Linked DNA regions of Homo sapiens: all the other regions are linked to region 3. The links come from fine-mapping of genetic effects on gene expression. A gene starts in region 3. Each other region holds a variant in brackets. All regions are shown on one strand. Distances are between the middles of the regions. Region 1 overlaps ASAP1 (ArfGAP with SH3 domain, ankyrin repeat and PH domain 1). Region 2 overlaps CYRIB (CYFIP related Rac1 interactor B). Region 3 holds the start of ASAP1 (ArfGAP with SH3 domain, ankyrin repeat and PH domain 1).

Evidence for each region. PIP is the estimated chance that this variant, and not a neighbour inherited with it, causes the effect. A credible set is the group of variants that fine-mapping cannot tell apart.
Region 1: its variant is the best candidate, but not a certain one, in a credible set for the expression of ASAP1 in blood mononuclear cells (TOPMed, PIP 0.62).
Region 2: its variant is the best candidate, but not a certain one, in a credible set for the expression of ASAP1 in whole blood (TOPMed, PIP 0.58).

What each region holds. Positions count from the first base shown.
Region 1 is chr8:130,176,556-130,179,212 of GRCh38, forward strand. The region is part of intron 9 of ASAP1 (ArfGAP with SH3 domain, ankyrin repeat and PH domain 1); the gene reads right to left. Among named protein-coding and RNA genes, the nearest start is that of ASAP1-IT2, 93 kb to the left of the region's middle. The variant C/T (reference allele first, on the strand shown) is at 1,535.
Region 2 is chr8:129,983,367-129,986,023 of GRCh38, forward strand. The region is part of intron 1 of CYRIB (CYFIP related Rac1 interactor B); the gene reads right to left. Among named protein-coding and RNA genes, the nearest start is that of MIR5194, 24 kb to the right of the region's middle. The variant T/A (reference allele first, on the strand shown) is at 1,157.
Region 3 is chr8:130,442,097-130,444,753 of GRCh38, forward strand. It overlaps ASAP1 (ArfGAP with SH3 domain, ankyrin repeat and PH domain 1), which reads right to left and starts at 1,578. Exons shown (of 30, transcript NM_018482.4): 1 at 1,364-1,578. RefSeq lists silencers at 1,133-1,212, 1,263-1,422, 1,433-1,522, 1,563-1,662.

The DNA.
Region 1 (2,657 bases), 270 kb before region 3:
ACATTCGTCTACCAGATTGCAATCTGGTAACAAAATCCTAGCTATCCTCCAAGTTCAATGACAAGTCCCACCACCTCCTTCAAGGTGCTAATACCTTCTCCTCAGTCCTCCTGGTCAGATGTCTCTCTTCCTGTTTTTTTTTTTTTTCTTTTGAGACAGAGTTTTGCTCTTGTTGTCCAGGCTGGAGTGCAATGGCGTGATCTCGGCTCACTGCAACCTCTGCCTCCTGGATTCAAGCGATTCTCCTGCCTCAGCCTCCCAAGTAGCTGGGATTACAGGTATGCGCAACCACACCTGGCTAATTTTGTACTTTTAGTAGAAACGGGGTTTTGCCATGTTGGTCAGGCTGGTGTTGAACTCCTGTAATCTAATAATCCACCTGCCTCAGCCTCCCAAAGTGCGGGGATTACAGGCGTGAGCCACCGCGCCCAGCCGTCTCTCTTCCTCTTGATGCTCCATGGTACCCGTCACTGTCCAGCCCCATTATGATTAATAATGGATCTGACTTACTTCCTATACCTGGACAATTAACTCCTGAGCGGAAAAGCCTTGCTTTATCTCTGTCCCAGAACTGGGCACAGTAGCTGATCTTTGGTAAAAGACTAATACATATTTGTGGAAAGGGAAAAAGCAAAGAATAAGAGAATAAAGGGAGGATGCATTAGCTATACAAGTTAGCATCACCATTACTAGCGAAGGCTAATATATGTATACTTTACAAAGCATCTTCTATTTTGAAAAACTCTTGTTTGTGTAGGCCAAACTCTTCCTTATAAACTTAGAGAATTTAACGTGAAAATAGATTTCTAAAGTCAGGTGAAATCAGTTTTGCTGCCAAAGTACTGCAGAATTCAGGAGACTGAGAGATTCACTTATTTCTTTAAAACTTTCAAAGGAATTAAATGTTTCCAGGAAAACTAAATTTGATGAAAGATAAAAAATTCCACCCAATACTAAAATCAGGGACCATTAGAACACAGGCCAAAGTTTCATAACTGCCCAACCACACTACAAAGCCAAAAGTAAGTTAGTTAATCCAGGTCTTCAATAAACAAACTTAATCTTAAGAAGGTGAAAACTTTCTACTTCAATATATTATTTTTATTTTTGAAAGACACTTATATAAGGTACAATTTACTTTGAAAAAAAGTTATCATCAAATTTATGTAAACAACAATTTGATCATCAAAAAGGTTTTCCTTAAGAGAAATATCCTAGACAATAAAATATATAAATAAATAATTTTAAATGCCACTTAGAATCATCACAGCTGTCAACACATACAAGGTCGCAGGCACTGGGCTAAGCACTCCACATGCATTCTTTTTCACTTTTTACAGCCTTACAAAAACCCTAAGGTGGTTGCTACAGAATCGTAACCCAGCTTGACGAGTGAGTATACTGAGGTTTAGTGAAGTACCTGATTAAGAATACAGTTAACCAGCTGCAGAGCCAAAATGTTGACTCATCTAATTTGTCTAACCCAAGCTTTGTGCTTTTGACATAATATTAATGCTGACCTCCTTAAATGTTT[C/T]AGTTGAATACAGGTATCTTTCTAAATATAACTATTGAAAAGAATAAGAAAGATCAAAGGAAATTATGAATTTAACTTTTTTGAGAGTATTTTATCTAGTCCAAACGACCTTTACATTATTTTGCTTATGAGAGCTGTCCATTCCATTTCTGGAAGGTCCTTCCATTATTTTCGGTATAACTTCCATCAACGAATACAGACTTTACTAATACAGACTTTACTTTTCTGGTAGAGTCTCCATGTGTAGCTGGCACATTTTCACACACAGACTCTACCAGAAAACCCATGAAAGTTAACCCAATAAGTAAACAAGCAAATGTGGCACCACAGAATCACAAACATAACAAAAAGATAGCCCTGCAATATAGGCAAACAAAAATGGTGCCAGTGTAGAACAATGGTATTTCTCAAAATGTAACACAAATTATATAGGAATCCATGTACAAATGCAAAGTATTCTTAATGCCCCAACTATTTAAATTCACTTATTTTAGATGAAACAAAACAAAACTGAAGACTCCAGGTGGAAATACATGGTGCAAATGGTGCAATAATAGGCCAAGGCCAAGGTGGATCGCGAGGTCAGGAGATCAAGGCCATCCTGGCCAACACGGTGAGACCCAGTCTCTACTAACAATACAAAAAAAAAATTAACTGGGTGTGGTGGCGTGCGCCTGTCATCCCAACTACTGGGGAGGCTGAGGCAGAAGAATTGCCTGAACCCAGGAGGCGGAGATTAGAGTGAGCCGAGACTGCACCACTGCACTCCAGCCAGGCAACAGAGTGAGACTCCGTCTCAAAGGAAAAAAAAAAAAAGGCAAAATGCCAAGTAAGAGAGTCAGGGTAGGGGGTCATCAGAAAGGACTCTTCAGTGACAGGGGATCATGCATCTGTAATAAGAGCTCCACAGGCGATCAAATTTAGGAAGAAGTATTTGTAAGTATTTGTCTTCTTGTAAGGAAGACAATATTTTTAAGCCCTAATTTGAGCTACTGATTTGTATAAAACACTGAAGATGGAAGACACTATTTCTTATCCATTTAGCTGAAAAAGGTCATTATATCACTTTATTTAGTCACGAGATGAAGAAAAGATATGAAGAGGATTAAGACAAATAATGAAG
Region 2 (2,657 bases), 460 kb before region 3:
CCCAGGAGGCGGAGCTTGCAGTGAGCCAAGACTGTGCCACTGCACTCCAGCCAGGGCGACAGAGCAAGACTCCATCTCAACAAAAAAGAAAAATAAATATATATATATGTATAAAAAATAAACCTGTTAAATCTGCTACATTAACAACAAAAAAAAGTTTTTAAATAAGAAGACACCATTGGGCAGCAGGCACTGGGTGGGAGTTACTGTGCCAGGTCACCCTGAGTGTGGCCCCACACAGCCCCACCGGCAGGAAGGGATCCAGGGCAGGGAGGGATCCAGGCCAGTCCCAGAGCAGGGACCAGGCAGCGCTCACGTGCGCTCTGCACCAGCCACAGGGATGCGGGGACGCTGGGGACGCGGGGATGCGGGGACACCGGGGACCGCCCGGGAGCACGTCCTGCGCATCGCCGGGCTCCGCGAGGCCTGCAGAGGACGCAGCCCTCTCCCTCCCGCTGGGTGCGGAACCGGGTGCAAGAGGCCGAAGCGCTGCCCCATAAAGCCGATCTTCGCCGGGGCCCCGCCCAGGCCCTAACGAATACATCCCATTGGCAGGAACCGGCAGCAGGTCCTAGGAGAAGCCAGCCTCTGATTGGAATCAACCGGGAGCTTTTTAAAAATATTGTTCCCCGGAATCGGAGATCAGGGTTTACAGACAGCTCCCAGGTGATGGTGCTGCACAGCTGGGGCCTCCGTATTTTTCCTCTGAATGCCTGAGGAGGTGATCCTGCTGAGCCGCCAAGGCGGGGAACACCGCCCACCAGCAGGGAGAAGCACTATTTAGGGCTGTGGCAAGAAGTCCTATCCTTAACAGTCCCCTGCCTCTCTCTGGCTGCAGGGACAACAGTCAGAGGGCTGCAGGGGCCTGAAGCCAGACACGGGACACAAGCTGCTTCCCTCTCCTTGCAGATGGCTGAGCACTTTCCAGTTGCCCAGGACCTCCCCATCCAGTGTCTCCCAGGCAGGGCTGGCAGGGAGGCCCTCTTCCCCACCCACTGAGCATCCAAGTGCGGGAGGCCTAATCCATGCACCTGGCACTTAGGAAGCCCACAGTCACTGCTGTTACTGTGGTTGCTACCCTCATCTCACTGGGAAAGAAGCCGGCTCAGAGAGATGGGATGAGTCACCCAAGGCCACATGATACTGGGGGCAGGGC[T/A]GGCACAGGAACACTGGGCTCTAGGGCTCATTCTCCTCCCTGTACCCCAGGATGCGGCCACTGCCCTGCCCTCCCCCAACACCTTTTTTCCTCCCTCTTACAGAAAACAGGCAGGCTCTACCAGTCAGGATAACACTTCATTCATTGCACACGCTAGGGCTTTAATTCATGGGACCCCACCTGTCCTCCTCAAAATAGTCCTGGGTCCTCTAGGAATGCCCTCCAACCACCAAGTGGTGGGGGTTTTTTTTGTTTTTGTTTTTGTTTTTTTGAGACAGTTTCGCTCTTGTTGCCCAGGCTGGAGTGCAATGGCGCGATTTCAGCTCACTGCAACCTCCACCTCCCAGGTTCAAGCAATTCTCCTGCCTCAGCCTCCCGAGTAGCTGGGATTACAGGCATGTACCACCACGCCAGGCTAATTTTGTATTTTTAGTAGAGATGGGATTTCTCCATGTTGAGGCTGGTCTCGAACTCCTGACCTCAGGTGATCGCCTGCCTCGGCCTCCCAAAGTGCTGGGATTACAGGCGTGAGCCACCACGCCCCACCCAAGTAGTGGTTTTTAGTACAGCTTTGAAGCCTGACACACCAGGGTTGCCACTCAGTAGCTGGGTGATCTGGGACAAGTTTCTTAACCTCTCTGGGCTCAGTTTCCTCTTCTGTAAAGTGGGACTGATAATATTTACCAGTAAGGGTTGTGGTGAGGATTATTAGGTGAGATCATCCAGCGGATGGGATGGGCACCACAGCGGCTGGCAGCAAGTACTAACAGGCAGTAGGTGCCACTATCCAGAAGGCCGGTCTTTCTCACGGCCTCTCCACGCTCCATCCTGGCCCGGGAAAGCTCCACACTGCTCACCCTCTTGCCTTACTCACCCCCTTGAAATTCCCCAGGCTCCATGAGCCGGTGACCCACTGCCTCTCGCTTGCCCAAATTCCTCTTGGGTGCCTGGTCCACCCTGGAGACAATGGTGACCCACCATGTGGCTGGAGGTACCACATCCTCCCCCACCCCCCAGAAATAGTAAATGAGAAGTAACCTTTTTCTATTCCCCATTCCAGACTTCCTTAATTAAAATCAAATATTTGCACACTCTCCAAAGCCTATAAACCTGATTGCTCTCAGAAAAAAAAAATGCTTCAGAGCAAATAGAGTGAGTGTGGCACAGGTTGTCTGGCAGGACCTCAGGGTACAGGGCAGCAGGTCCTGAACAACCACACCAGCCCAGAGCAGTCGCCCTCCACTTTTCTCAGTCCACCTCCACAACAAATCAATGCAACATTCACTTTGCAAAAGGCCCACTGAAAAGCCCCTGAGGGTGAGCAGGTGTTGGGAAGGGATGGAAATGAGGAACAGTCTACCCCAGCCCTACCCTGAACACTTTCAAACCAGCCACTTCCCACCGGCATGGCTGCCCAGCTGTTAAAATACTGAGTCCTTCCACACAGGCTGGGAAGTAGCTGCTGCCCCAGGAGTCCTCACCCTAAGTGTCCCTCCCCCAG
Region 3 (2,657 bases):
ACTCCCTATCTCAAAATATGCAGTTTGAAATAAGTGCATATCTCAAAAATAGCAGCATTAACAGGACAGAAGAGAAGGCACTAAAGTGGTGAAGGCTGTGACGCAAAGAAGACGTTTCCAAATCTGTTTCATGGCTAACAGATCAAAATCTAACACAGAAGGGGCATGGGACTGAGCCTGAAGAAGTGGAAACTACTCCTGGCCATGTGATCTTGGGCAAGTCAGGTCACCTTTCTGGGCCTTCTCTGAAGGGGGTGAATCAGTTGTTCTCAAAGATCTTTTTCTTTCCAAACTGTTCACTGGGTGTTTCCAGAAGACCCGCATTTTCTTAAAGCTATCTGGCCGCGCTACAATTGCAAAACAGAAAGGCTTTGGGATGAAGGTTGCAATACAGATAACCCTGGCCTAAAAACTGATAAGCTTTTACAATCCCAAAACATTACTCAGCAATCCAGGTCCTGATGTCATCCCAGAATCAATCACGCCAAGATAACCTAACAGAGTAGACAGGGGAAAATGCGAGAGAAAGTTCTTTTGCTTTCCTGACGAGTACAGGTAAAGTTGAGGTCAAGTTAACGATGATGGTCTGCAGTTGACCATCCTTCTCCCTGAGCTACTGGAAAACCACATTATTAAAGGAAACTGCTTTAGAAGTGCCCAAGATGAACCTCTTGGGATGTATCAAACCGCAGAAAACCGGACACCGGCAAGTTTCTTTTTTCTTTGAAACTTCATGTCGCTCTCAGAAAACGCAGCAGGTCCCAAAATGGTACAAGCAGAAAACACAAGCCACTTCACGGTCCGCCCAGGAGCCAACCCCAAGCTCCAAGTAGGACTCCCCCCACCCCCTTCCCTTTCGTTTCTCTTCTTTTGCTTTAGGCAAGTGGCCTGGGGCCTGCCAAGCAGCGCCGGGTCCGGGTAGGGGCCGGGGGCCGCGGGGAACTTTCCTCGGCTGCACCAGAGACAATGCCGGGAGGGCGCCCCATCGGCGGGGTCCGGGCCGCCAAGCACGTCGTCCCGGGCCCTCCCCCGGAGGGGGACGCGAAACCCCCCAGGGCGGGCCCCGTCCCCGGCCCCACTGCAGGGGCCCCCTCTCCCGAGCTGGAGGCGAGGAGACCTCCCCCCCCCACCGGGCGGCCTCGCCCGGCCCCGCAGAGCCTGGCCGCGCGTCCCGCACACGCCCCAGCCCAGGGCCGGCGCCCTCCCCGCGGAGAAGGACACCCCGCTGCGAGAGGAGCCGGGAGCCCGCCCCGCGCCCCGTCCCGGCGCCCTTCTTCGCGCGAGAGACTGGGCAGGGGGCGCCCGCGACTGTGGGCGACTCCGCCCGGCCCCGCCGAGCGCGCCCGAGCGCCCCGCAACTCACCGGGACCTGGCGGGCCGCTGGGCATTATTCCATCGCGGGTTCGGCCGGGCGCTCGCGGCTCTCGGGTGGGAAAGCGAACTGCGACCGGGAAGCGCCGGCTGGGCGGGAGGCGCGGGCCCGGGGCTGCCCAGCGCACAGTGCTCGCCCGCGGCAGCGGCCAGGCCAGGCGAGGCGCGGGAGCCGAGCGCGGCGCAGGAAGGGGCGGGCGACCATGTGCCGAGGGGGAGGAGGCCGCGGCGACGCGAGCGGCTCGCACGATCCCGCTCGGCGGCGGAGGGCGCGGGTTTCAGGAAATCCAAACACTTCGACAGGAAATCGGAATCCTGACTAAGCATTCCCGGCCCCGAGCCGCTCCGCGCCGGGGGCTCCCGCCTCGCTTAACCCTTGGCCCGCCGGCAGCCACGAGGGGGGCGTGGGAGGGGCCCCAGACCTCGGCCGGGGTCGGGCGTCCTTCGCCTTCCGCCCCATGCCCCGGCCGGCCGGCCTCCTCCCCGCCTGAGGTGGAAGGGGTGGGATTTATCCACAGAAAACCCTGGACGCGGAAGGTGCCTTTCTAAGGCCGGGACAGCGGCAAAGGACGTGCCTGTCTTCCATCTGCAGAGGATGGACCTGCACTGTCCTGGCCGTTACCCCTATTTTCAGTAAAGGAATGATTTCACCAGGCTGCCCCCTTTCACCACTTCCTCTCTGCTCTTATAATTTTATTTTTGCCCAGTGCCAAGGGAACAGGACCTTCCCAGTCAGGATAGTATAGGAACAGTATGGAGAGTAATTGTGTGGGCTGCAGGCTCTGTGTCCGGTTGGAATATGGCCTTTTTTCTACTCATGTTACCTTGAGTAACTCGCTCAACTTTCCTGAGCCTCAGTTTCCATTTATGAAATGGATGTTAATTCCACCCTCATAGGTTTGATCTGGAAGCTGAATGTTTAGACAGGGACTGGCACATTGGAAACGCCCAAATAAATGATAGCCATGCTTGTCCTTATTATTACCATTAAAAGACATCAGAGAAAGGAGGATTTTAATTTGTGGGATGTATATTGTGCATATCTATGTCTACTTTCAAAGTCAGAGACAGTAGTCTTTCTTTAGAACTTAATTTCCCTCCTAATCATTGGGTGATTGTTTTTCTTTGCAGCATTTCAGAAACGGCTCTCTGCAGAGGAAATGGTTAGTGGCTGTGGCAGACCCCCTTCTGGTGAAATCCGAAACAGAAAACCTCACAAAATTTGGGATTTTGCTCCTAATCTGAGAGTCTGGGTGTAGTGGGGAGTGGGGGTTGTTAAACAGTCT